7 linked regions of the Homo sapiens genome follow. The protein of the gene in region 4 purifies or fractionates together with the protein of the main gene of each other region. This does not show direct contact. Each region holds a gene or a part of one and is shown on either strand. Other genes may lie near its edges.

Region 1 (3,500 bases), on a different chromosome or scaffold from region 4:
AAACTTAATGATGAGCTGCCATTAGAGGCTGTCAACAACAACAAAGCAGGAACCCTATTCTGAAAATGATAATTAAGGGACACTGATGTGTTGAGCAAAAATCAGAAGTTTGGTTTCCCATTTGTAACAGTAATTGAATATGGAGGCAAGTAGGGCCTCAGAAGACTGACGTTTTCAGGTTTTCTGTCTGTTCATAACTAACTGTATGGCCCATGCAATCAATTTACCTTCTTGGTGGCTTGGTTTTTATATTATCTCAGCAATATTTTATTGAATGCCTCTTATAGGCCAGCCACTTTGCTAATGACTAAAGAGCCACTGAATAAGAAAACTAGGGCTCCCTGCTGTCATTAGAGGTACGTTATAGAAGAGAAATATATGCTCAAAAAATACAGTAAAGTAGGAAGTGTTAGTGATAGGAGAGGAAGAGTGTCTTGTGGGAACAGATGAAAGGGGACACAGCTTAGAAAGTTGGGTGGAGGATGTGCCAAGTCAGTGGAGCCCTGTCAGGTGAAAGGGTAGGGCAGAGGAGGAAAGCTCAGGCATTTCACATAGAAGGGACAGTAGGCCAGGTGTGGTTGCTCATGGCTGTCATTCCAGCACTTTGGGAAGCAGAGGTGGGAGAATCCCTTGAGGCCAGGAGTTCAAGGCCCACCTGGGCAACATAGCCAGACCCCACTTCCACAACTTTTTTTTTTTTAACTAGCCTGGTGTGGAAGCATGCACCTGTAGTTCTAGCCACTTAAGAGGTTGAAGAGGGAGGATCACTTGGGCCCAGGAGATGGAGGCTGCAGTGAGCTTTGATAACACCACTGTACTCCAACCTAGGTCACTATAGAGACCTAGCTGTCTCTATAAAACAGACAAACAAACAAAAGAGTATATGCAAAGGCCTGGCAGCTAGAAACAGCACAAGGGTTTCTGAAGTTCAGTGTGTTACTAAGAGTCTGTGACTCCAAACTGTGTTGCAAATATTTCTATGCAAATTTCATGTGTGTGACAGCTTTCATGTGTTACACACACAGGAGCTGAAGGATCCTCACTGTCGGGATGAGATGGCAGCCGCCCGAGGGGCTCTGAAGAAGAATGCCACAATGCTGTACACGGCCTCTCAAGCATTTCTCCGCCACCCAGATGTCGCCGCTACGAGAGCCAACCGAGATTATGTGTTCAAACAAGTCCAGGAGGCCATCGCCGGCATCTCCAATGCTGCTCAAGCTACCTCGCCCACTGACGAAGCCAAGGGCCACACGGGCATCGGCGAGCTGGCTGCGGCTCTTAATGAGTTTGACGTAAGCATCCTGGTGAGGTACACAGAGGGGTGGGCACTGGTGTTGACAAAAAAAAAAAATGTATTGAGGATGAAGGGCCACTACAATAATTTACATTGATTTTTCTCTTTTGGAGGTTTTAATAGTAAGATAAACTACATAATGCATTTCTGTAATATATTGGCTAAGCCATTATCACTTGTCTTTAAAGAAACAACTGTGGCTGCGGTGGCTCACCCCTGTAATCCCAGAACTTTGGGAGGCCGAGGTGGGTGGATCACCTGAGGTCATGAGTTCGAACATGGAGAAACCCCGTCTCTACTAAAAATGTAAAACATTAGCTGGGCGTGGTGGCGCATGCCTGTAATCCCAGCTACTCGGGAGGCTGCGGCAGGAGAATCGCTTAAACTCGGGAGGCGGAGATTGCGGTGAGCCGAGATCGTGCCATTGCACTCCAGCCTGGGCAACAACAGCAAAACTCCGTCTCGGGGAAAAAAGAAGAAACAACTGTATTTAAGAGTGCCCAATCCCTTCCAGGTAGATGAGATAACTTACAGGCTATTTTAGGGACAGTTCATAATTTGACGATCATCTTTATTATTAAAGGGGCACATGTTATGGGCAGCCTAGATGTACGTTGCCTCTATGTTGTGCCTGCGTGAAAAGCTGCCATCAATTTCTTTGTTTTAAATCAGTGATAAAGTACATTGCCCTATGATCCCACACAGGACCCTGGTCTTCATTAGAACAGACCCTCTGGGGAGAGCCTGTGTTAGTTCTCTGAAAGTCCTACATTCTACACTGGCTGTTTCTGTAGGTGTGTCCTGGTGAGGGAAGAAGCAAGGAGGATTGTTCACTGTGCTGAGCCATATGTGAAGCATCAGTGTGAGTGAGAAGGTTGCACGCATGTCATCAGCACCCCGGGATGACAGCCCCCATTCCCCCCGGGTCAGAGGACCTGTGAGAAGTTGGAATTTATTTATCTTATGATCAATGAAAGCCTACAAAGATTTATAAATAATTAGCATCTACTTTCCAGGGTTAAATAACCCTGCAGGGGAGATGAGGGAAGTAGAATGCACTAAACACCATTTAATTGATAAAACACAATGTTACAGGAATTCATAGAAGAAAAATAGGTTACTTAATGGTCATGAAGAAAGATGATGAGCTTGCTTTTGAATATGTTGATGTGAATTTTTGGCAAGAAATAACTAGTTAGCAGCTGGAAAAAAAGGTCCAGGAGCAAAGCAATGATTGTTCAAGGCTTGGAGATGGATGATATAACTGAGGAATAATTTTAACAGTTCATACTCAAATAGTTCTTACCATTTTCATAGTGGTCTCTCCTCTTTCCCATATTTTTACAGTTAGTTATATGTATCTCACACCATATATTATTTCCTAAGGTTTTTTTTGTGAGGATTAAATATGATAATATATTTAAAGCACTTGCTACAGAAATGAAGACTTAATAATAGGTAATTTTATTCACAAAATTGCAGCGAGCAACTGAAAATTCATAGAAAATAATGAGAGTTCAAAATAATGTTTACTTTATATAACATAAATATACAAAAATCTCTAGATTTTCATCATGTAAAATAAAGTAGAATAACGAGGAGATATTCACAAAACAAATAATTTTTAAAAAGTTAATTTTATTTTATTATTTCTTATATCTGCTAGAAATAAGTCTAATATAGATGTGAAGGACCTAAAAAGTCAAATTATATTACTTTATTGAGGGACAAGTTTTACTTGTCAGTAAATGATATCATGATCTTGAGTAGGAGAACTATTGATCCTATCAGTTTTCATAATGTTGAAGCAATCTCAATACAAATTCTAAGAGGATTCTTTTGGAACTTGACAGAGGAGTGATAAAGGATTTTTGTTTGTTTGTCTTTTTTTATATTCTAGAATAAAGAATGAATGAGCCCATATTTCAGGGAAAAGTAAATGAGCAGGTCATACACACAGATATTAAAACATTGTAATGCTACATTAATTTTAAAGGTGTGTATTGAAACACAAATGGACTCATCCATGAAAGAATAAAAATCATAGGCAATCTCAAATACAAAATTATTTTATAAATTGGTGTTTATTAAAATTAGTTAAGAATGGATTATTTAGTCAGATTTTGACACAATTACATTATTCTAGTTATAATTTATTTTATAATCAAAAATAAACAACAAAACCTAAGTGAGGAGCTGGTTAAGA
Region 2 (3,500 bases), on a different chromosome or scaffold from region 4:
TTCCACACTATCTGGGACCACGAGGACGGGGCCTGGTGTGCATGTGGGCTTTAGCACCAGGTCTGGTCCACACCTCAGGCAGCCCGACGTGTTCTTGAAGACAGTTGTCCACTCGGCGTCCCGTGGCTTGGAGTCCTCGTTGGGCTCACGCTCCCATCCTGAGTGGGGCACGATCACCTCGTGGGTCAGCGTCTGCAGGCCATGGTCAATGATGACCATCTTCAGGGGCTCATAGGATGACAGGTTCCACAGGGTGCCTGTGGGGTGCGATTGGCCAATCTGTGCTGACCATATGCACCGCCTGCCTACCTCCCCAGGTGGCCACGCTCAGGACCTGTCCCACTCTCCTCATGTCCCAGCTCATGCAGAACAGTAGGAAGTAACAAAAGCCGTGAGTGGTTCCGGGGGACACCCAGTACTGGTTTCCAGCTAGGAAGGAGCCCCAAAGGGGAGGAGGTGCAGAGGAGGGTGTGGCAGTGCTGTCCCGTCCCACCCATTCCCTGCCATGTGGCAGGTGGCACTAACACTCCTGAGGCCACAGGGCCTCACAGAGACACGGTGACCCTACCTGTCCCTCAGCTCTCACAAGGCACAAGCCCCACCACTGCACGGTTGGGGTGGGAACCAAGGAGGTGGGTCCCAGGAGAGTTTCTGTGGGGGCAGGAGGTGTGAAGGCAGGAGGTGAGGGGACATGCCCGAGGGGCGCAGCGTCAGCCTCCCTGCTATGGTAGAGACTGGGGAACCTGTCACAGTGTCTGGGCCTGATGCCTGGCTCCTGGGGCAAGCGTCTCAGCAGCTGCACTCCTGCCTACCGGGTGCTTTCCCAGGCGGTCGCAGGCCGAGTGGCCTCGTTCCTCCCGGGTTGAGCCTCACACTCTTCTCTTCCCAGGGGATGTGAGCATGGCCAGGTCCCACTCACCAGTGACAAGCTCACGGACCTCGTTGTCCCGGGCAGCCCTCAGCAGGCGCACCAGGGCAGGCACACCACCGCAGTCCCGGATGGCGGCCTTGTTGTCAGTGTCGCGGCCATAGGAGAGGTTGCGCAGTGCCCCACAGGCCCGGCGCCGCACCTCAGCCCGCGGGTGGTCCAGCAGTGCCACAAGCAGCGGCAGCCCCCGCAACTGCCGTACACGCCGCTTGACACCCTCGTTCTCAAAGCACAGATGCTGCAGGTAGGCGGCCGCATTGGCCTTCACGGGGTCCACGGGGTGCCGCAGCATGGCCAGCACCTCAGGCAGCTCAGGGTCCCGCCAGCGCGGCTCCTTGCGGGCGCTATCCACTGAGGGCGAGCGCCGCACCAGCCGGTCCAGGCTGCCCATGCTGCCCCGTTCAGGCTGGGCCAGGGGCGCCGTCACCATTGGGAACGCAGGCCGCTCGTCCGCCAGCTCGCCGCCATCATCTGCTGTGTCCTCGTAGGCCCTGCACAGGCAAGTGGGGCGCGTGGACATCGTCACAGCAGCCGCCAGCCCTGCCTCTGAGCTGCCCCATCACACCTTCTTCAGGACTGCAAACTCACCCAGCAGCGCTGGGCTGAGAGCACCTGTATCTTGGCCCGGAGCATGGTGGGGACACAGAGAGTCATGCACCAGCCCAGTGAGAACCAATTCAGAGCCAAATGCCAAACCCCAGCCAGCGGCTACCAGGACCCAGGCAACCCTCCCAGGACAGCAAACTCACTCACTGCTGTCACCGGGCAGTTTCCCAATCCCGAGCAAAACAAGTTTCTGTGAGACATCTGCTATGGCTGCTGGAGAGACCGTCTCACCTCCCTTCCACAAAACCACCCCATCTTCCATGAGGCCCATCTCTGGCTGTGCCAGGATGTAGGGGGAGTAAATGGCCCTCTCCGCATGAAGCCATCCCAGTAGGACCACCTGAGGAGTATTCAGGCCACCAGCCCCTTGGGGCACAAGATCTCCTTAGCTCTCAGTAGCCCTGTGGGTTGCTGTCATCAAACCGCCTGCCCTGAGGCTAGGAGTGACGGTCAGGTGACTTGGCCAGGGTCACACAACAAAATCCTGACCCGGGCTGTGGTCACATCCCCACTCCAGAGATGCAGAAACTGAGGGCAATGGGGACAGAACCAGGGGCTGTGACAAGGGCCAGGGCTCTGGGTTCTGGTTACCCAGAGTGTGGCTGGAGCAAGGCCAGTGGCCGGCACTCTTCCCAGCTTTCCTGGGCCCTGGGCCTGCAGGACAGTGCCCAGCCGAACTCCTACCACCCCAGGGTCCACCTTTCTTCTGTCCCTGACGAGAGCCAAGGCCAATTCAAACTAACATGCATGACTAACTCAACTGCGCCACTTGACAAGTGGGGCACTCTGTAGTTGGGGGGTGGAGGGCAGACTTCCCAGAGGAGGTAGCCACAGGGGACGGGGTGCAGCTCACCTGGTATGAAGGCCCCGCCCACACTCAGGCCTCCTCCTTGTGGCCGTGCCATAGTCAGGCTCCAGCTCAGGGCCACCCTCGTCATCAGCGGCCAGGCTGCGCGTGTCATCCTCCAAGCCATACGGCTCTGCCTGGAAGCGCTCGGGCAGGGAGCGGCCACCTGGTGGCCCAGGCTCAGGACCCACCGGGAAGGCTTCCCGGTGGCCAGGCAGTGTGAAGCAGCCATCACCAGGGCCTGGGCCAAGGGGGCCAGCACGTGGGGGCCGCATGCCCAGCCCTCGGGACAGGCTGCCATAGCTGGGGCTGTCCCGGGGCTCGGGGCCTTCGGGAAAGCCACCCCCACTGCTGAGGTAGGCTCGAGAGAGTGTGGCCACTGGGCCACCACCACGCAGCAGGAAATGCCGGTCCAGGGCACCATCTGCAAAAGGGCCTAGTGGGGGGCCGCCATCCAGCAGGGGGAGTCCATCTGGGCCCACGGGCACCTGGCGTACTGTCCGAGTGGTCACCGTCTTGACAGTCTTGGTGACCTGGTGGATGGATAGGCAGGTAGGTGGGGTAGCACGAGAGGCCTAGAAACTGCTTTGCTGGGGTCTGGCTGGCCTTAATTTCCCACTCGAGCAATGAGAGGCCCCACGTGGCAAGCTTCCATGTCCACTCTGCAGGTGGGACAGCTGCAGCAGCCTGGCCCTGCTCACCCACCCACTGCCTGGGCCTGGCCATACCTTGGTCTCGGTGCGCCGGGTTGTGCCATCTTCGGATGTGACAATAGACACATGGGAAGTGGGTGTGCCGGGGTCCTCCTCCACCGTCACGGTCTCCTCCAGCACATCAGGTGCCTCCGGCATCGTGGCCAGTGAGGCCTGGCTGCCTGGGCTCTGCTCCTGGGGCAAGGAGGGACATTGGTGGGCAGGCCTGCTGCTCAGTCACCCCTGGAGTGCAGGTCTCCACACACAGCAGCTCTGCCTCAGCTCATGCTGGCCAGCACACCAGGGTGCCTTCCTCCTGGTCCTGAACCCACCCACCCCAAGGCCTGTTTCGGCCCAAGCTGACAAGGACAGCAATAAGTTCTTGCCCTCTGAACATCGAGGTGCTAACCCTGCCCCGGCACCCCAT
Region 3 (3,389 bases), on a different chromosome or scaffold from region 4:
TCATGCCTGTAATCCCAGCACTTTGGGAGGCCGAAGCCTGAGGTCAGGAGTTCAAGATCAGCCTGGCCAACACAGCGAAACCCTGTCTCTACTAAAAATACAAAAATTAGCTGGGCGTGGTGGTGGGCGCCTGTAATCCCAGCTACTCCGGAGGCTGAGGCAGAAGAATTGCTTGAACCCAGGAGGCGGAGGTTGCAGTGAGCCAGGATCGTGCCATTGCACTCCAGCCTGGGCGACAAGAGTGAAACCGTGTCTCAACAACAACAACAACAACAACAAAAAAGATTTCTTTTTCGTGGCCAGGTGCAGTGGCTCACGCCTGTAATCCCAGCACTTTGGAATGCTGAAGTGGGTGGATCACCTGAGGTCGGGAGTTCGAGACCAGCCTGACCAACACGGCGAAACCCCATCTCTACTAAAAATACAAAATTAGCTGGGCGTGGTGGCGCATGCCTGTAATCCCAGCTACTCGGGAGGCTGAGGCAGGAGAATCGCTTGAACCCAGGGCAGAGGTTGCAGTGAGCTGAGATCTCGCCATTGCACTCCAGCCTGGGCAACAAGAGCAAAACTCCGTCTCAAAAAAAAAAGATTTTTTTCTCTTTTTGTTTTTTGGTGTTCCTGCTTTACTGATACTCTAAACTGATTAGTCCTAGTAGCTGGGATCACAGGCGCCCGCCACCACACCCAGCTGATTTTTTGTATTTTTAGTAGAGACGGGTTTCACTATGTTAGCCAGGCTGGTCTCAAAATCCTGACCTCAGGCAATCCACCCGCCTTGGCCTCCCAAAGTGCTGGGATTAGAGGCGTGAGCTGCCGCGCCCAGCCTTGCCTATTGAGAATCTAGTACTGCCTCTACCTCTGGCTCCGGGAGTACCTATGCGGTGCTACCTCTTGTCCTGCTCAAAAGGCAGACGCCCCCATCTCCCTCCCACCCTGTGGCATCCCGCCCCAGCTCTACCCGAAGCAGTGCTTCCGCAGACTCAAGGCAAACCTGCCCGCCTGATACTCTGCCCCATTCATGAGGGATGGTTCCGTCTCTGTGTCCTCGATCAGCACGGCCAGCTCACTGTCCCGCTTCCCCAGCAAGCTCCGGTCATTGATGTTTGCAGAACCTGGGGTGGATGCGGGGCACACTGTGTGCTTGGGCCCAGGGCACTCTCCCCAGTACCCCATCCCCTCTACCAAAGCACTGGCCTGCAACATTCCTTCTTGGACCCTCCACCCCTACACGAGCCTCAGCTGCAGTCTCTGTCATCCTGCCTCTCATCTCTTCGCCTGTCCCCACACCCTCTCCCTGCCAGAGGACTAGATCCGGCACTGACCAATGATGACTGTCCGGTCATCTGCGATGAGCACCTTGCTGTGGATGTAGATGAGCTCCGAGACGGGGTGCCCGCCCAGCTCTCCGTGTGTACGAAGCCCGCAGATGGAAATATAGTCCCGCCATGCTGTCCCCACTGCGTGACAGGAGGGGAAGTGAGGTGAGAGGTGGCTCTGTGTGCACAGGGCCCTGTCCCACCTCCTCTCACTCCAGAAACTCTTCCTACATAGAGTCTGGTCTCTCTCCTTCTCCCTGCAGTGAAAGGCCAGCTATGGTCTGCGTAGCGTCAGAGGCTCACAGGAGTGACAGCCTCCTTCCCCCACCCCCAGGCCTGCAGCGCCCCAATCTCCCTCTCCCAGGGGCCCAGGGCTTGAGCCCCCAGCCCCCAGCACTCACTGGCTGCTTTAAGGCGATGCAGGATTGAATACTCCCCACGACACAGGGTCCTGAGAGAAAAGAAAGAGGGAGAGAAGTGGAGGCTGGCAGAGGGGAGGGGAGGTCAGGAGAGGTGGCCCTTCTTTAAGGCCCAGCAGGAAGGGATCAGGACAGAATCAGGAGGGGGACACGGGTGGGATGGGGCCACTGAGAGCTGGAGTCCGCCTGGGGGGTCACCTGTAAGTAAAGTGCAGAATGGCCTGGATGGAGTTGCCACCGCCCGTGGAGATGTCACCCTCGAAGCCAGGGAGTAAGGGCAAAAGCACGTAGACTCGGTAACACCACCCCTGTCTGGGGAGGGGGTGGAGTCAGAGGTGCGACTGGTCCCTCAAACCCCACCCCCTTCAACCGGGCTCAAACCACACCCACAGTCCCCACCTTCCTGACAGTCCACCTTACTTGTGGGCCTTCAGGATTCTGTCCACAATCTCATCGCCCACCTTGTTCAGAACCGTCCGCCCATCTGAGCAGCTAATGAAGAACTGATTCTGGGGCAAGAATCAGAGACAGACATCAGCAGCCTGGCCCCTGGCCCTGTCCTCGGCCTCCAGCCTTGGTCCCAGGCTCCAGGCGTCTGCTTCTGCTCCACCAGCCCTCAATGACTGACTCCACTCATTCCCCAGGTCTCTCTCCTGGGACACCCCTTCCATGCTCTCCCCCACCTCCTCCCAGTCAGACCTCAATGTAGAGGAAGTGCTGGCTCTCCCTGATGGTGTGCAGGTAGGCATTGAGGATGGAGTTCTCCAGAGTCCCTGCTGACCAGCGGTCCACTGATCGCAAGACCTAGGGAATGGTGAATGCGATGTGCTTCATTTCTTTTCTTTTTTAAGACAGAGTCTCGCTCTGTTGCCTAGGCTGGAGTGCAGTGGCATGATCTCCGCTCACTGCAAGCTCCTCCTCCTGGGTTCACGCCATTCTCCTGCCTCAGCCTCCTAAGTAGCTGGGACTACAGGTACGCACCACCACTCCCGGCTAATTTTTTGTATTTTTAGTAGAGACAGGGTTTCATGGTGTTAGCCAGGATGGTCTTGCTCTCCGGACCTCGTGATCCGCCTGCCTCGGCCTCCCAAAGTGCTGGGATTACAGGCGTAAGCCACTGCGCCTGGCCTTTTATTTTATTTTTGAGATGGAGTCTCACTCTGTTGCCCAGGCTGGAGTGCAGTGGCGTGATCTCAGCTCACTACAACATCCTCCTCCTGGGTTCAAGCGATTCTCCTGCCTTAGCCTCCCTAGTAGCTGGGACTACAGGTACGCACCACCACGCCCGGCTAATTTTTTGTATTTTTAGTAGAGATGGGGTTTCACCATGTTAGCCAGGATGGTCTCGATCTCCGGACCTTGTGATCCGCCTGCCTTGGCCTTCCAAAGTGCTGGGATTATAGGCGTGAGCCACCGTGCCTGGCCGTGATGTGCTTCTTAACCCCAGGAAAGGAGAGTGTGGGCAGCTCTCACACCAGGGAGAGTGGGTTGGGGTGTTAGGCTGAAGGAGACAAAGGGGAGGGCTGGCTGAAGTGGGGGGCCTCACCTGTACGGTGGTGCACTGCCCTCCTGGAAGTGTGAAGGGGAGCTGATTGGCCGTGCTGGTAGACTTGGGAAGCAGGTAGGGGTATGTGGGAGTCTTGTACTTGGCCTT
Region 4 (3,955 bases):
TACAGCACAAGTTTCAGAGCACATTAGCCAGTGTCTCTAAAACATTTGGCCTATTTGCGATGGTCAGGGGATAACTTGACATTCACTTGGGGAGTGTGGGGATCAGAATGAGGAAGGTGAACTGCCACGGAAGGGCTCTGAATGAAGCAGTCCCCGGAGTTGCTGGAAAGACTCCCCTCTCTGTTTTCAGAGGGATTTTCCTCAACTCCTCGCCTTCTTCAGAGTCCAGAAAAAAAAAAATCAAAGGCGATTTAAAATACTGTGACTGCTCCAGCATGAAATGACTATGTGACAGCGAGCTTCAAATCTGCTAAAGCAGAATTACAGAATATTATTATCAGAATTATTATTTAATAAGGGGGATAGCTCTAGAATTTATTCCAGCCACAGAGCTCGGGGAAGTGGAAAAACATGTCTGGACATGATGATTATGGAGAACTCCCTTTAAGGGAAAAAGAATGTAACCCTAAGAGAACATCCTTCAAAGGTACCACTTCTCTCTGTAGAAGAATCCCACTCCCAGCCCCCACCTCATATATATATCTCTCTCTCAAACACACACACACACACACACACACACGCACACGAAGAAATCCCTGCAACACTGGACACAGCTGATGCAAAGCAATATCTAGGCAGGGATTTTACTGGTATTTAGCATGAACGACAGGGCTCACTTTGCATGCAGTGAGGTGCAGCAGCGAGGCTGAATGGATGGAAAATCCCACTTTCGAATCTTACATAAACATCTTTCCCACATATAGTTTTCCAGTTGAAAAGCTCCTATAATAAAGCCTGAGGTGACAGCCCAAGGAGGGTTTTTAACCATTGAGATGGCTGTCAGGAGTGTTGTAAAGAGAACAGGCGCTTCAAAAGCCAGCCCCCATCCCTCGGATCTGCTTTGCGATGGTACCGGATGCGAGAGGACAGTACTCTCGCTTACCTTCCCTAGCGTCCCCTCGTTCCCATTGTCAGCCCCCAGATATCATGACGCCAGGTGAAAGAAAGCAGCTGATCTGATTAGCAGCTCGGGCGCGCTAAGGGATTGTCGAATCATGCCTCCTAAGGAGGAAACTCTTGTGGAATCTTCAGGAAAGGGTGGTAAAGTTGAAAGGACCTTTCCTCCCTCCCGCTGTCTTGGTGATAAGCTCTATCGTTTAATTGGTGCTGAAGTGAGCAGCTGCCAGCCCGATTTTCCATTACGGACTAATATTGTGCGTTTGCAACAATAAACAATTAATGTGGTTTGATTTCTTACATTTAGCAACCCAAGCAAACAGCTGCCATCTCCGCTGGTGGAGGCAAACGGCTAGTCCTTGACATGCCGCCGGCTCCGTGCCTGCGGGGGAAGGGTCAACCGCAAGGAAACTTTGAGGATTCTGCCAGACTGGGTGGGGGAAGGCTCTGGTGTTTGGGAGGAATAAGCGGAGGAAATTGTGGATACCTGTTGGCATCAGCGTTGGCGGCAGCACGTTTTTTTACCGTTTCCCAGCCTTGGCTGGATCCTGGGAGAACCGGAGTAGGTCCCTTATGAACCTCTTACGTACTGGCAGAACCTAGGCAAGAGCCTTTTTCCCTCCGATCCTGCGAGGGGCGCGACCAGCCCCTCAAAGGTTCCCGGATGAGAAGCGGCCAGACCACAGAAAGCGCAGGTCTGGGCTCAGCTGTCCCTAGGAGAGCGGCTACGGAGTCCCCGGCTTAAGGGGGCCTCCGTGCACGCAATCTCGAGTTGCGGGGAGACACTGCCTGGGGGTCCTGCAGGGGTGCTGGGCAGCGTCTTGGCGAGGGCAGAGCCGCAGGGCGACTCCGGAGCCCGGCAAGTTTGTAGCGGGCACCGCACCTCCCAGAGCTGGAGCTGCCACTTGTGGGAAAGCCTCGCGCTGGGGCTTTCGCAGCTGAGCCTTGGCCCGCAGCCCTGCCGCGGGGGTCGCCCTCCCTCGCCTCGGAGATGAGGCGGTGCAGAAAACCAGCCATAGACCACTCGGGCCCCCTCGCCTCCTTTTTTCCCTGGCTTGCACCCTCCGCACAGCGGGCTGCAGGTGCTTCCCATTCACCGCACGGACCCCGCAGTGAAGGCGCGCGGCTGCAGCCGCGCCTGCCTGCGTTGGGAAGCGGCGAAATAGCCAAGTCGCCGCAGGGAAGGAAACCGGCAGGAAAACTGGAGGGGCACAGCCTGGAGCTTGCTACTCTCTAGGATCTGTTGTCAAAGCAGTTTGCAAAAACAGTCAGGCAAAACCTTGAGGCGTACGTACGTTATCACCCACGGATATCGCGAAAGACACAGCTTAGCCCAGAGCCTATGCTAAGAACCCTCATCCACCATCTGAGGGGCAGGAGGCGCGCAAGGTGTCCGAAGGGGCATGGGAATTCCTATAAGAAACGGTCCCTTCTGGATAGTCGGAACATAGAGGAAAACGGGGGTGGGTTAGGGGAACACTTACTCTTGTGGGGCCCTGCGCTGGCGAATGTCAAGCCTCCAGGTTCACAAATGGCTGGAGGTGCTCGGGGTTAGCTCCCGAGGGCGGCAAGCGCCGACCGGTCCTCGCTCGCTAGGCAGGCGCCTCCGGATTCCGTTCATGCCTCTCGGAGCTACAGGGCTTGGTGCGGAGACGCAGGGCGGGCGCGCTGGGCTCTGGGTGTCCGCAACCCAAAGTGCAGCTGGTGTCTTGACGCTACCGTCTATGCACAAGCCGGCGGCGGCGGCGGAGCTTGGAGGAGGCAGGGAGATTCCAAATAAATCCACTAATTCTGGGCTGAGCGCTCCGGCGTGCGAGCCCGCCTGCCTGCCAAATGTAACTGTGAAGTGATGTGGAAAAGTGAGCCGGGTGCCTCCCCTGACGGATCTCATTGGGCAGAGCGCAGAGGCAGGTCTACCACTTGGAAATTCATGTAAGCAGTCCCCCCTCCCCGCCCCCTCCCCGCCTTCCCCCTTCGCTCTCCCGCGCTGGCTCGATCGCTCTCTTTCCCCCTACCCAAGTGGGCGCACAACTTTTCGCTCCTCGCTCCCGAGCAAGCCCCGCGCGTCTCTGCCGCCAGAGCCACGAGGTGAAGATGCGCCCTTCCGCGCGGTGCGCGCAGCCCGCTGAGGACCGAGCTCCTGGATAAGTGGGCTGGCAGATAATAACAGCATGCGGATGAGGTACCTGCGAGCTTTCTCTCTAGAGGTCTCACCTGAGCTCTGGGGCTGGCGTTATGTTGAAAAGCGTCTCAGTGACCCGCAGCTATTTTCCGTAGGAGGAAGAGGACGCGACAGGGCAAAGGGTTGAGCGTGGGCAGCTTACCTCCTCTTTATTCCAAGGGCCTCTTGCGTACAGAATAGGGTGATTGTGAGACCCCTGCCTGCAACTCAGACGCTATGTAGAGGCTGTGTGTCGCGGTTCTGTGATGGAGCGCATTCCTGATGTCCCCGTGCTCCTTTGGGAAAATGGGATGAGGGACAGCAGAGTGGCAGCCAGGAGGGGCGCGCAGTAGTTGGTTGTGGGGAGGAGGGCAGGCAAAGCAGAACTTGCTTGGGAAATAGGGGAGGAATTTCTAGGTCTTCTCAATGTGCCCTGATCTTGTCATATCCTCTCAGATACCATCCTTGCGGTTCTCCTGCCTCCACCAAGACCTGCCCTGTCTGTGGTCACTTCAAGTCTTCTGATGGGCTGCGCTCAGATCTTGAGAAATGGCCACCCTGGGGTAAAAGGGACCATGAATCAGGAGGTCCAGATTTCTTTTCTTTTTCAACACTGGGGCTAACATGTAGACGATGCCACAGTCATCATCTTCTAATAAAATTAGATAAATATAAGACAAATAAATTCTTACCTTAAAAAAAAAAACCCTCCCCTCCACAGGAGATCCCGATTTAGTCCCTTCCCTGTGTGCACTAGACGTGAGCCTGAGGGTGGATTTTACCATCTGGGGACAGAGCAAGAACAGAAGGGGGAAAAAGGTGCAGGGGACAAGACGC
Region 5 (3,500 bases), on a different chromosome or scaffold from region 4:
TGAGTTTCTTTCTTTCTTCTTTTTTTTTTCTTAAACTATAGCTGGTATTTGAATGTTGCTAGAAGCCTTTCTTCTAGTATGCCATATAAGCAGCCCTAGCTGAGTTCTATTTTTGTTAAGCTTAAAATTCTTTTTAAAGACTTTGTCAAAACTATCAGGTTTCTCACAGTCTTCTCTAGTTTCAATATGAGAATTTTATTTTATTTTATTTTTGGGACAGAGTCACTTTTGTTGTTCAGGCTGGAGTACAGTGGCATGATCTCGGCTCACTGCAACCTCTGCCTCCGGATTCAAGCAATTCTTGTGCCTCAGCCTCCCAAGTAGCTGGAATGACAGGTGTGCCCCACCATGCCCAGCTAATTTTTTGTATTTTTAGTAAAGACAGGGTTTCACCATGTCGGGCCAGGCTGGTCTCAAACTCCTAACCTCAGGTGACCCGCCTGCCTTGGCCTCCCAAAGTGCTGGAATTACAGGTGTGAGCCACCGTGCCTGGCCAGAATTTTACATATTATATATATGATAGAAAAAAACCCCTCAGAATAACAGAAATGTACAATTTTAGGAAACATGAAATTCTTTACCTTATTAGTATAAGAATCCTATATATTGAATTAAGAGATAAAGACATTTTTGCTTCAGCTAGAGGTATCTAATCCCCAAAGTTACCCAAGTGTATATCAGTATATTAAATATAACTTATCTATGCTGTTGACAAATAGCATAAACATATGGCTTGACTTTTCTCATTTTAATATTTGTTCATTTGATGATTTGTAAACTATATAATTATCACCCTGATTTTTTTCCCCCTATATTCTCATCCTTGCTTGCCTGTTAGGTGGGTGTGCCTGCTGCTTTGGACATGATGCTGACTGGTAGAAGCATTCGTGCAGACAGGGCAAAGAAAATGGGACTGGTTGACCAACTGGTGGAACCCCTGGGTAAGTGTTAGCACATCTCAGAGTCAGACCTTATAAAGTTACTTATTTTCTTAAAGAGTTAACCTCTTAGGCCAGGCACGGTGGCTCACACCTGTAATCCCAGCACTTTGGGAGGCTGAGGCGGGAAGATCACTTGAGGTCAGGAGTTTGAGACCAGCCTTGCCAACATGGCGAAACCCTGTCTCCACTAAAAATGATTAGCCGGGTGTGGTGGTGCAAACCTGTAGTTCCAGCTACTTGGGAGGCTGAGGCAGGAGGATCGCTTGAACCTGGCGGGGCTGAGGTTGCAGTGAGCCAAGATCATGCCATTGTGCTCCAGCCTGGGCAACAGAGCCAGACTCCCATCTCAAAAGAAAAAACAGTTAACCTCTTGAATATCACAGGAAGCACAGAGAGAAGCTCAAACTCTTAAGAAATGAGTCATTATTCTAAGGAAGGAAGTTTTATAAAATAGCTAATACTAAATCATTTTCAACATCACCCTGATTTTTATTTTGCTTTATAATTAGAACATTAGGAGTACAGAATTCAGTCAAGTCATTATTTTTGGTTCTTAAATTACCTGTATCATTATCCATGCATAACCTTCCTTCAGTTTCTTGTGTCTGTTTTAGTAATATAATAAATGAAACAACCAACCTGAGAATATTAACAATAATTGATATCTACTGATGGGCTACTTCCTCCCATTCAGTTTCTTTGCCTCCCTTTATCCAAAGAAGCCACTATTCTGACTTGTGTGTTCATTACCCTCTTATATTTATTGAAAATCAGCATTATTGAGATATTACTTACATAATAGTAAATGTATTAATTTTGTGTGTGTGTGTGTGTGTGTGTGTGCGCGCGCACACATGTTGGGGTCTCACTCTGTTGCTCAGACTGGAATATGGTGGTGTGAATATAGCTTGTTGCAACCTCAACTTTTTGGGCTCAAATGATCTTCCCACTTGTGCCCCCCGAGTAGCTGAGACCACAGGCATACGCTGCTACACCAGCTAATTTTTTATTTTTTGTAGAAACGAGATCTCACTCTGTTTTCCAGGCTAGTCTCAAACTCCGGGCTCAAGTAATCCTCCTCCCTCAGCCACCCAAAGTGCCGAGATTTACAGGTGTGAGCCACTGTGTCTGGTGAAATTGACCAACTTTTAATGTATAATTTGAGTTTTGAAAATGTATATAGCTGTGTAAACACTGCCACAATCCAAAAATAGCCGTGCATGGTGGCTCACACCTGTAATCATAGCATTTTGGGAGGCTGAGGTGGGAGAATTGCTTGAGGCCTGGAATTCAAGACCAGCCTGGACAACAGAGCAAGATCCTATCTCTTAAAAAAGAATTTTTTTTTTTCAATTAGCTGGGTATCATAGTGTATACCTGTAGTCCCAGCTAGTCAGGAGGCTGAGACAGGAATATTGTTTGAGCCCAGAAGTTCAAGGCTGTAGTGAGCTATGATCACACCACTGCACTCCAGCCTGAGCAACAGAGTGAGATGCCATCTTTTAAACAAAAATTTTTAAACATTTCTGGTATGTAGTTTGTTTTAATCTTCGTTCACTTAGCATAATGCTTTTGAGATGCATCCATACTGTTGCATATATCAGCAGTTTGTCCTTATTGCTGAGTGTTACTCCATTGTAGAAATGTACCATAGTTTGTTTATCCGTTCACCAAATGATGAGCATTTGAGTTGTTTCTAATTTAGGGCTATTCTGAATAAAGCTGCTATGAACATTCATCTTTAAGTCTTTATGTGGGCGTGACTGGGCGTGGTGGCTCAAGCCTCTAATCCCAGCACTTTGGGAGGCTGAGGCAGGCTGATCACCTGAGGTCAGGAATTCAACACCAGCCTGACCAACATGGCGAAACCCCATCTCTACTAAAAATACAAAAATTAGCTGGGTGTAGTGGTGTGCACCTGTGGTCCCAGCTACTTGGGAGGCTAAGGTAGGAGAATCACTTGAACCCAGGAGGTGGAGGTTGCCGTGAGCCAAGATTGTGCCACTGCACTCCAGCCTGGGTGACAGAGCGAGACTCTGTCTCAAAAAAAAAAAAAGTCTTTATGTGGACAAATGTTTCATTTCTGTTGGGTAAGTACTGAAGAGTGGATTGGCTAGTCCATATAACAGATATATATTAGCTTTTGAAAAAAAAAGTTTGGCCTGAGCAACATAGCAAGACTCTGTCTCAACAAAATAAAAAGTTTTAACTAGTTGGGTGTGGTGGCACATGCCTGTAGTCCTGGCTACTAGGGAGGCTGAGGCAGGAGGATTGCTTGAACCCAGGAGTTTGAAGTCACATGGAGCTATGATCAGGCCACTGCACTCCAGCCTGGGTGAGAGAGGGAGACCTTATCTCTGGGAAGAAAAAAAAAAAATTTAGAGATGAGACTTTGAGTCTTGCTCTGTCACCCAGGCTGGCCTCAGACTCCTGGGCTCAAGCAGTCTTCCTGCCTCAGCCTCCCAAGAAGCCGGGATTACGAGGCATATGCCACTAGTATTTGCTAGGTATGTGTTTGCTTTTCTGTCAGACTGTTTTCCCAAAGTGGTTATACTCTTT
Region 6 (3,500 bases), on a different chromosome or scaffold from region 4:
CGGCCTCCCAAAGTGCTGGGATTACAGGTGTGAGCCTCTGTGCCTGGCCTAGAAAGTTTTGTTATCTGTTGCAACAAGGTTCCCCCTTTTGTTTTTCAACATTTTCTTGACAATTTTCATGAATTTTATTTCAAGATGAACCTTACGTAAGGGAACTTGTAGCCCAGACCCTTGTGGCATTGTAAGTAGCTTCTGAGTGGTGCCTCTCTCATGGGCCTCTTTGTGTTTCTCTGGCCAGAGTCCTTTGAATATCCCTAGGCTGGTGATCCTAAAGCTTGGGCTTCTCCATCTCTTTCCAATCCACATGTTTGGAACATGTTTTGTTTTTTTCTTTTCGGAAGCTATAGGACCTCCTTCTTTTAGTCTCTAAAGACCCAAGAGAAGTTAAACCTTAAAGCTTTTGTATTATCTATTTCTGTGTAGCCAATTACCGCCAAATGTAGCAGTTTAAAACAATACATGTTTACCATCTCATAGTTTCTGAAGGTCAGGAATCAAGGGCACTTTAGCTGGGTTGCTCTGAGTTTCCCATAAGGTGGCTGTCAGAATGTTGGCAGGGCTGGAGTCAGCTGAAAGCTTGCCTGCGCTAGAGGCTCCGCTTCCAAGCTCACTCACATGGCTGTTGGCAAGAGGCATCAGTTCCTCACCACAGGAGCCTCTTCATAAGGCTGCTCAGGACATGCCACCTGGCTTCTCTCATAGTGGGTGAGCTGAGAGAGAGACCACGACAGATGCTGCAGTATCTCTTATAGCCTATCTCAGAAGTGGCATACCATTACTTGTAACATACTTTTTGGTTTATACATTCTGTGATATGGAGAGGGAGGCAGCTAGACAAGGATGTGAATACCAAGAGGTAGAGATTATTGGGGGGCAACTTGGAGGCTGGCTACCAAAGTCTTTGTTGGTAAATCTTGTGGGATTTTTTTGGTTTTGATTTTTTGTTGTTGTTGTTAAAACATGCTTCAAAATTAAGAAATTATAAAAGGTGTGTGATGACAAGTCTTCCACCCCTGACCCCTAGTTACCCAGTTCCCTTTCTTCCAGCCAACAATTATTTTTAACATCTTTATTATACTTCCAGGGGGATTTTATACTGATACAAGGAAATGTACATAATATTTTTCCTCTTTTAACATGAATGATAGCATGCTGTACAGCTATTTTGCACCTTGCTTTCTTCACTTAATGATACAGCTTAAAATGGTTCCGAATTGGTGCATAATCATTTCCTTACCTTTTACAGCTGCATAGTATTTCACAGGGGTGTTGTAGCATGGTTTACTTACCCATTTTCCTATTTTTTGGTTATTCTAATTTTTGACTATTACAGTAACAATATGGATTATGTCCTGTGTGTGAGTAATATCCATGAAGTCAGTTCATGGAAGTGGAATTGCTGGTTCAAACATTAGTTTCAGTTATAGTTTTCATGGATAATTACCAAATTGCCCTCCCCATGGACTGTGCCAGTTCTCTTGGCAGCAGTATATGAGAATATCTATTTGCACATACTCTTACCTACACAGAGTATATATCAAACCTTTGAATCTTTGCTACTTTGAGAGACAATTATATCTGTGGTTTTAATTTGAATTCTTCTTATGAGTGAAATTGAACATCTTTTCATATACTTAAGAACCATTTGTATTTCCTTTTCTGTGGTCTGTTCATATTCTGTGCCTATTTGTCTGCTAGTGTTTTCCTTAGTAATCTGTAGGAACTCATTGTTAGAAATTTAGTCTTTTTTGGAGGGGTGGGGGAAAGTTGTTAATATATTTTACATATTTTTTAACATATAGGGTTATTATATGTTTTACTTTTTTATTGTTTTGAAACAATACAGTATCAAACTTTGAAAAAGTTGCAAGTGCAGTACTACAAACTTTTTTTAGTAGCAGTTGAGATTAAGTTGCTGACATGATGCTTCACCATCCCTATTTAGTGTATATTCCCTTCAGATACAAACATTCCACAAAGCCTTCTACATAATCATAGTACAGCCTTCAGAATCGTGAAACTAATACTAATGGTTTTATTATCACGCCTAGCAGTCTCTCTGCTTCTTTGACCCTAAAGGAGAGGAGCACACACTCTAGAGGTAGACTTCCTAGGTTCAAATTCCAGCTCTGGGCCTGGTGCGGTAGCTCACGCCTGTAATCCCAGCACTTTGGGAGGCCAAGGCGATGGATCACCTGAGGTCAGGAGTTCGACACCAGCCTGGCCAACATGGCAAAACCCCATGTCTACTAAAAATACAAAAAATTAGCCGGGTGTGGTGGCACGTGCCTGTAATCCCAGCTACTCGGGAGGCTGAGGCAGGAGAATCGACTGAACCTGGGAGGCAAAGATTGCAGTGAACCGAGATTGCACCACTGTACTCCAGCCTGGGCAACAAGAGCAAAACTCCATCTCAAAAAAATAAATAAATAAATAAATAAATAAATAAATAAATAAATAAATAAAAATTCCAGCTCTGCCACTCACTAGTTGTAGGTCTTTTGGCAAGTCACTCAATCCTACTATGCCTCAATTTCCTTATCTCTTACAAAGGATGTAATAATCATGCCTCCTTTGTAGGTCATTGTGAAGATTAGATGGTTAATGCTTAGAATAGTGGTTGCTGCAATGTGAAAACCATGTTGGTGTTCCTATCATAATAATATTATTAGATGAAGAATAGTTGATAAGATTAAGTTTTAATGTTTTCTAGTAGCCATGGATGAGGTTATCAGAGTTCATAGACTACAATGTAAACTACAAATTGTTCAGCTAATCCAGGATATACTTTTGTTCTTCTCTTTTTAGATTCCAGAATGACTATCTTGACTTACCCCTTTAAAAATCTTCCCACTGCATCAAAATGGGCCCTCAGATTTTGTAAGTTTATTATTATTTTTTTATTTTTAGAGATTGGATTTGGATTTATAAACATCTCGCACAGATACTGAATGGTATTGCTTTTTGTAAACAGTTTATTTTGTCTTCCAGCCATAAGACCTCTGAGCTGTTCCTCCCAGCTACGAGCTGCCCCAGGTACAGTAATTTGTAAAATAAATATTTCTGATTTAAATGTTAGATTCCAGATTCTATAGTTTGTGAACTCTGAATAAAAACCAAAACTAATTTGCTAATTCTCCCCTTTTTATGAGCACATGAACATCTCTGTTGCCTTCAAATTAAAAAATTATAGGTCCAATCAATAATGATACTACATTATTTAGGATTAGGCTTGAGGATGTTAATGGGAGGCTGTTTTCTGGGATTTGAACCTGCTGGAGTCATGGAGGTTCCATAAACCTCGTTGGTCAGTTTATTTATCCTCTTGCTGTCCGTCCTGGAGGTGAATGGCATACAAATGCTCTTGAGACCTGCTATGGAACCAAAAGTTAACTTTAAATTTGCAATTTGTGAAATGCTTCTCTATTGATGAATATCTTCTTCTCCCATGTGCAAGAGGGCCCATTCCTGAAATAGAAGTGATTAGGAACTAGTTAATA
Region 7 (4,110 bases), on a different chromosome or scaffold from region 4:
TACAGTTTTTCTCTGTAGTTAACAAGCCTCCCCACCATTTTCCCTGAAATAGCCAAACTCTCAGCCTCATCTAGGCCACAGGATGTGTGAGACACAAGCCTCCTTACACAAGCCAAAGATTGTAAAGGCATCCTTGACTCCCACACAATCGGTAATAGGGCCTATTGCTTCCATTGGCCAAATGTATCTTGACACAAACCAGTCTTGTCCTTTCTGCAGATCTCCATAGCCACTTGGACTACTGTGGCCGCTCCCGATTTCCTGTTCTTTCCTCTCTCCACTTCCTTCTGCATCCAGCTGTCAATACTGTCATCTGAAAATGCAGATCACATGGCTCTGCCCTGCTTCCATGACTACTTAGAATACAGCTCATCTCCAGTATGGTCTGCGGGGTCTCAGTTCATACCACTCTCTGTGGTGTACTTTGCTCCAGCCTCACTGGAAGAAAATGTTTGCTTGCTATAAACACTTGAGAGGTGCTCTGTGTTTCTCCCTTTGGGTAAAGCTTTCTAGGCTGGTCCTAATCTGGGAGCCTCTAAAACTCTGAGATGTGGAGCGAGACAGGAACTGGGCAGGGGCCACCCTTTTCTCTTTGACCATCCCCAACTGCTTTTTTTCTTGCTTTACTTTACTCACTTGTCTTCCACCTCAGCCTGCAGTGAGTGGCTTTTGTCATCAGGCATTAATAACGCAAAGTGCCTCAGAGCAGAAGAGTTAACTATTTGTTTACTTAGCTAAAAACATCTGGACTTTTCTCCATAGCCAGGCTCCTGCTTGCTGAGCCGGCTTGTTCTCACCTCGAGGGGCATGGGCCTCCACCCTGCCGTTTGGGGTGAGGGGATCCTTGGCCAGGGTGGTTTCCCCGCCGTCATAGGAGGGAAGTCAGTGGGAGGCTCAGAAGGCCTTGGCTATACAACCAGTGCCATGCGGCGCAGTCAGGGTCCCATGGACGACTTCCATCAGCTCACCCGCCTCCATCCCCAAGCAGAGTGTAGGCAAGGGCTGTGACTGCCTCAGGTAATTGGGTGATTTTGCTCCAGCAAGAGGAGAGGAAGCATGTGAGTGCCACACTGAACCTTTCAGAAACAGCCGTGGGGTCGGGGGTGCTTGGGCCAGGCCAGGATACTTGGTGTTAAGCCTGCTCTCTCTTCAGTGCCCCGACTCGGCTTGCAAGCAGGACCTGCTGGCCTACCTGCAACGCATCGCCCTCTACTGCCACCAGCTGAACATCTGCAGCAAGGTCAAGGCCGAGGTGCAGAATCTCGGCGGGGAGCTTGTTGTCTCTGGGGTAAGCATTAGCTGAACAAAAAGAGGGCCAGTGGGAACGTGCTGACCCTTGTCAGAAATGAAAGTCACCTCCTATCCGCATAAACACCTGCCCTGGGAAAGTGTGCTGTGCAGAAACTCCAAGTCCTGTCCCAGTCTCTGGAGACCAAGGTCTGTCCATCATCTGTTCCCTGTAGAACTGTGACACCTGCGGGGCACTGCAAGGGCTGAAAGGCTGGCCTCCTCCCCTTTGCTGGCCACTCACTGGGTAGGAATTTTTAAAAATCTTCCTTGGGACCGGGCGTGGTGGCAGGTACCTGTAAGTCCCAGCTACTTGGGAGGCTGAGACACAATAATTACTTGAGCCTGGGAGATGGAGGTTGCAGTGAGCCGAGATGGCACCACTGCACTCCCGTCTGGGCAACAGAACAAGACTGTCTCAAAACAAAACGAAACAACAAAACAAAACAAAACTTCCTTTTCTTCCCCCAGAGAGGAATTAAGAGTAGACATAGATAGGGTGTTTTCTCAAAAGCCCTTCACTCCTCAGAGTGCTTGGGTAGCGTCTCTTTCTTTTTACCACATCACAGTTCTGAGGCCTTTCTCACCTAGGGCAGGGGAAAGAAGAGGTTTGCTGAGTGGATTGGGGTCCACCGAGCCTCCATGGCTTCTCTTAATCCCACTGAATTTCCTTTAAAAGAAACACTTCTTATATTGAACATATTGAGACCATTTGCTCATCTGCTTTGCCATAAACATCCCTGTCTCGATTCCTGCTTCTCCTCCCCCACGTGCTTACAGCTCTGGGATCACTTACAGTGACTTCCAGTTGGTTTGAGTGAATAAACACTTGCTGAGGGGTGGGGGTGAGCAAGGCGAGGTTGCCTCATGTCTTCTCCAAAGGGTCTGAGGGCAGGCGCTTCCAGGCTATTTAGATAAGAGCAGCCGTTGAGGGTGTTCTTCAGGAACAGGCTGCTGCCCAATCCTCTGCGACCTGCCCAGGCCCTGGTCTTGCAGAGGAGTAGGGGGCTCCCCTTCAAGCACAGCCCACCTGTGTCCACGAGGCTGGAGGTCAGGCCGGTGCTTCTTACCACCCCTGTCTGCCTCGTAGGTGGACAGCGCCATGTCCCTGATCCAGGCAGCCAAGAACTTGATGAATGCTGTGGTGCAGACAGTGAAGGCATCCTACGTCGCCTCTACCAAATACCAAAAGTCACAGGGTATGGCTTCCCTCAACCTTCCTGCTGTGTCATGGAAGATGAAGGCACCAGAGAAAAAGCCATTGGTGAAGAGAGAGAAACAGGATGAGACACAGACCAAGATTAAACGGGCATCTCAGAAGAAGCACGTGAACCCGGTGCAGGCCCTCAGCGAGTTCAAAGCTATGGACAGCATCTAAGTCTGCCCAGGCCGGCCGCCCCCACCCCTCGGGGCTCCTGAATATCAGTCACTGTTCGTCACTCAAATGAATTTGCTAAATACAACACTGATACTAGATTCCACAGGGAAATGGGCAGACTGAACCAGTCCAGGTGGTGAATTTTCCAAGAACATAGTTTAAGTTGATTAAAAATGCTTTTAGAATGCAGGAGCCTACTTCTAGCTGTATTTTTTGTATGCTTAAATAAAAATAAAAATTCATAACCAAAGAGAATCCCACATTAGCTTGTTAGTAATGCTCTGACCAAGCCGAGATGCCCATTCTCTTAGTGATGGCGGCGTTAGGGTTTGAGAGAAGGGAATTTGGCTCAACTTCAGTTGAGAGGGTGCAGTCCAGACAGCTTGACTGCTTTTAAATGACCAAAGATGACCTGTGGTAAGCAACCTGGGCATCTTAGGAAGCAGTCCCTGGAGAAGGCATGTTCCCAGAAAGGTCTCTGGAGGGACAAACTCACTCAGTAAAACATAATGTATCATGAAGAAAACTGATTCTCTATGACATGAAATGAAAATTTTAATGCATTGTTATAATTACTAATGTACGCTGCTGCAGGACATTAATAAAGTTGCTTTTTTAGGCTACAGTGTCTCGATGCCATAATCAGAACACACTTTTTTTCCTCTTTCTCCCAGCTTCAAATGCAAATTCATCATTGGGCTCACTTCTAATAACTGCAGTGTTTCCCGCCTTGGGCTTGCAGCAGAAAAACCTGACAACATAGTGTTTGCTAAGGCAGTAATTTAGACTTTACCTTATTTGTGATTACTGTAGTGATTGATTGATTGATTACTATTAACTACAAGGTATAATTTACTATCACCTTATTTAAATTTTATGAATTAATTTGAATGTTTTTTACACTAACTAACTTTTCCCAATAAAGTCCACTATGAAACCACGACATCCAAGAGCCCAAAGTCGTCTTCTCTGCCTTCAAGTCATAGATTTGCCCGCAGTATCTGTGGTGCTCTGGGCCCTCCCGGTGTCCGTCTCTTCCAGGATGGGGATGCCCGGGAGGGAAACTGTCTGTGGCTCTAGGCTGCACGGCTCGTGCCAACCCATCAGGGAGGGCCATGCCCGTTGTCCTATTGAGTGCCCCACCCTGCACCCCCACCTTGGGAATTCACATGTCCATTCCTTGAGGTTCATGTCAACCTCGGAGGCATCCCTGTCTTCATTATAGCTGACCCCTCTCCTGCGTCCTTCTGTCAGCATATCCCTTCTGCATCCTTCCCGTCACACATACATACCAAGCTATGATGATTGATTGATAGTGGCCTTCGAGATGAAAACCATCCTTAACCCCATGATCCTTCCCAGCTGGCATCCCCACCCTAAGCAAGGTTCCCTAAAGAGAAGCTTGTTGACATTTTCTCCCCTTCCTCACTTACAGTCAGCTGTCA

The links.
Region 1: the proteins of CDH8 (region 4) and CTNNA2 purify together in Homo sapiens (co-immunoprecipitation; 3 studies listed by BioGRID and IntAct, with this or other methods). This does not show direct contact.
Region 2: the proteins of CDH8 (region 4) and ARVCF purify together in Homo sapiens (co-immunoprecipitation; 3 studies listed by BioGRID and IntAct, with this or other methods). This does not show direct contact.
Region 3: the proteins of CDH8 (region 4) and PLD2 purify together in Homo sapiens (affinity purification with mass spectrometry; 2 studies listed by BioGRID and IntAct, with this or other methods). This does not show direct contact.
Region 5: the proteins of CDH8 (region 4) and HADHA purify together in Homo sapiens (affinity purification with mass spectrometry; 2 studies listed by BioGRID and IntAct, with this or other methods). This does not show direct contact.
Region 6: the proteins of CDH8 (region 4) and HADHB purify together in Homo sapiens (affinity purification with mass spectrometry; 2 studies listed by BioGRID and IntAct, with this or other methods). This does not show direct contact.
Region 7: the proteins of CDH8 (region 4) and CTNNA1 purify together in Homo sapiens (co-immunoprecipitation; 3 studies listed by BioGRID and IntAct, with this or other methods). This does not show direct contact.

The regions. Positions count from the first base shown.
Region 1 is NC_000002.12:79,873,051-79,876,550, forward strand, and holds part of CTNNA2 (catenin alpha-2), read left to right. Parts: intron 1-1,025; coding exon 1,026-1,292; intron 1,293-3,500. UniProt on the Homo sapiens protein: May function as a linker between cadherin adhesion receptors and the cytoskeleton to regulate cell-cell adhesion and differentiation in the nervous system. Required for proper regulation of cortical neuronal migration and neurite growth.
Region 2 is NC_000022.11:19,978,824-19,982,323, forward strand, and holds part of ARVCF (splicing regulator ARVCF), read right to left. Parts: intron 3,269-3,500; coding exon 3,110-3,268; intron 2,915-3,109; coding exon 2,388-2,914; intron 1,420-2,387; coding exon 920-1,419; intron 870-919; exon of another isoform or gene 569-869; intron 258-568; coding exon 74-257; intron 1-73. UniProt on the Homo sapiens protein: Contributes to the regulation of alternative splicing of pre-mRNAs.
Region 3 is NC_000017.11:4,817,152-4,820,540, reverse strand, and holds part of PLD2 (phospholipase D2), read right to left. Parts: coding exon 3,282-3,389; intron 2,540-3,281; coding exon 2,435-2,539; intron 2,245-2,434; coding exon 2,156-2,244; intron 2,048-2,155; coding exon 1,934-2,047; intron 1,768-1,933; coding exon 1,718-1,767; intron 1,458-1,717; coding exon 1,323-1,457; intron 1,113-1,322; coding exon 959-1,112; intron 1-958.
Region 4 is NC_000016.10:62,033,639-62,037,593, forward strand, and holds the start of CDH8 (cadherin-8 isoform 1 preproprotein), read right to left. Parts: upstream 2,801-3,955; 5' UTR 2,442-2,800; intron 1,549-2,441; exon of another isoform or gene 1,445-1,548; intron 1-1,444. UniProt on the Homo sapiens protein: Cadherins are calcium-dependent cell adhesion proteins. They preferentially interact with themselves in a homophilic manner in connecting cells; cadherins may thus contribute to the sorting of heterogeneous cell types.
Region 5 is NC_000002.12:26,227,633-26,231,132, reverse strand, and holds part of HADHA (trifunctional enzyme subunit alpha, mitochondrial precursor), read left to right. Parts: intron 1-838; coding exon 839-941; intron 942-3,500. UniProt on the Homo sapiens protein: Mitochondrial trifunctional enzyme catalyzes the last three of the four reactions of the mitochondrial beta-oxidation pathway.
Region 6 is NC_000002.12:26,251,439-26,254,938, forward strand, and holds part of HADHB (trifunctional enzyme subunit beta, mitochondrial isoform 1 precursor), read left to right. Parts: intron 1-2,808; 5' UTR 2,809-2,816; coding exon 2,817-2,880; intron 2,881-2,991; coding exon 2,992-3,036; intron 3,037-3,500. UniProt on the Homo sapiens protein: Mitochondrial trifunctional enzyme catalyzes the last three of the four reactions of the mitochondrial beta-oxidation pathway.
Region 7 is NC_000005.10:138,931,425-138,935,534, forward strand, and holds the end of CTNNA1 (catenin alpha-1), read left to right. Parts: intron 1-1,153; coding exon 1,154-1,288; intron 1,289-1,463; coding exon of another isoform or gene 1,464-1,534; intron 1,535-2,377; coding exon 2,378-2,665; 3' UTR 2,666-3,610; downstream 3,611-4,110. UniProt on the Homo sapiens protein: Associates with the cytoplasmic domain of a variety of cadherins. The association of catenins to cadherins produces a complex which is linked to the actin filament network, and which seems to be of primary importance for cadherins cell-adhesion properties.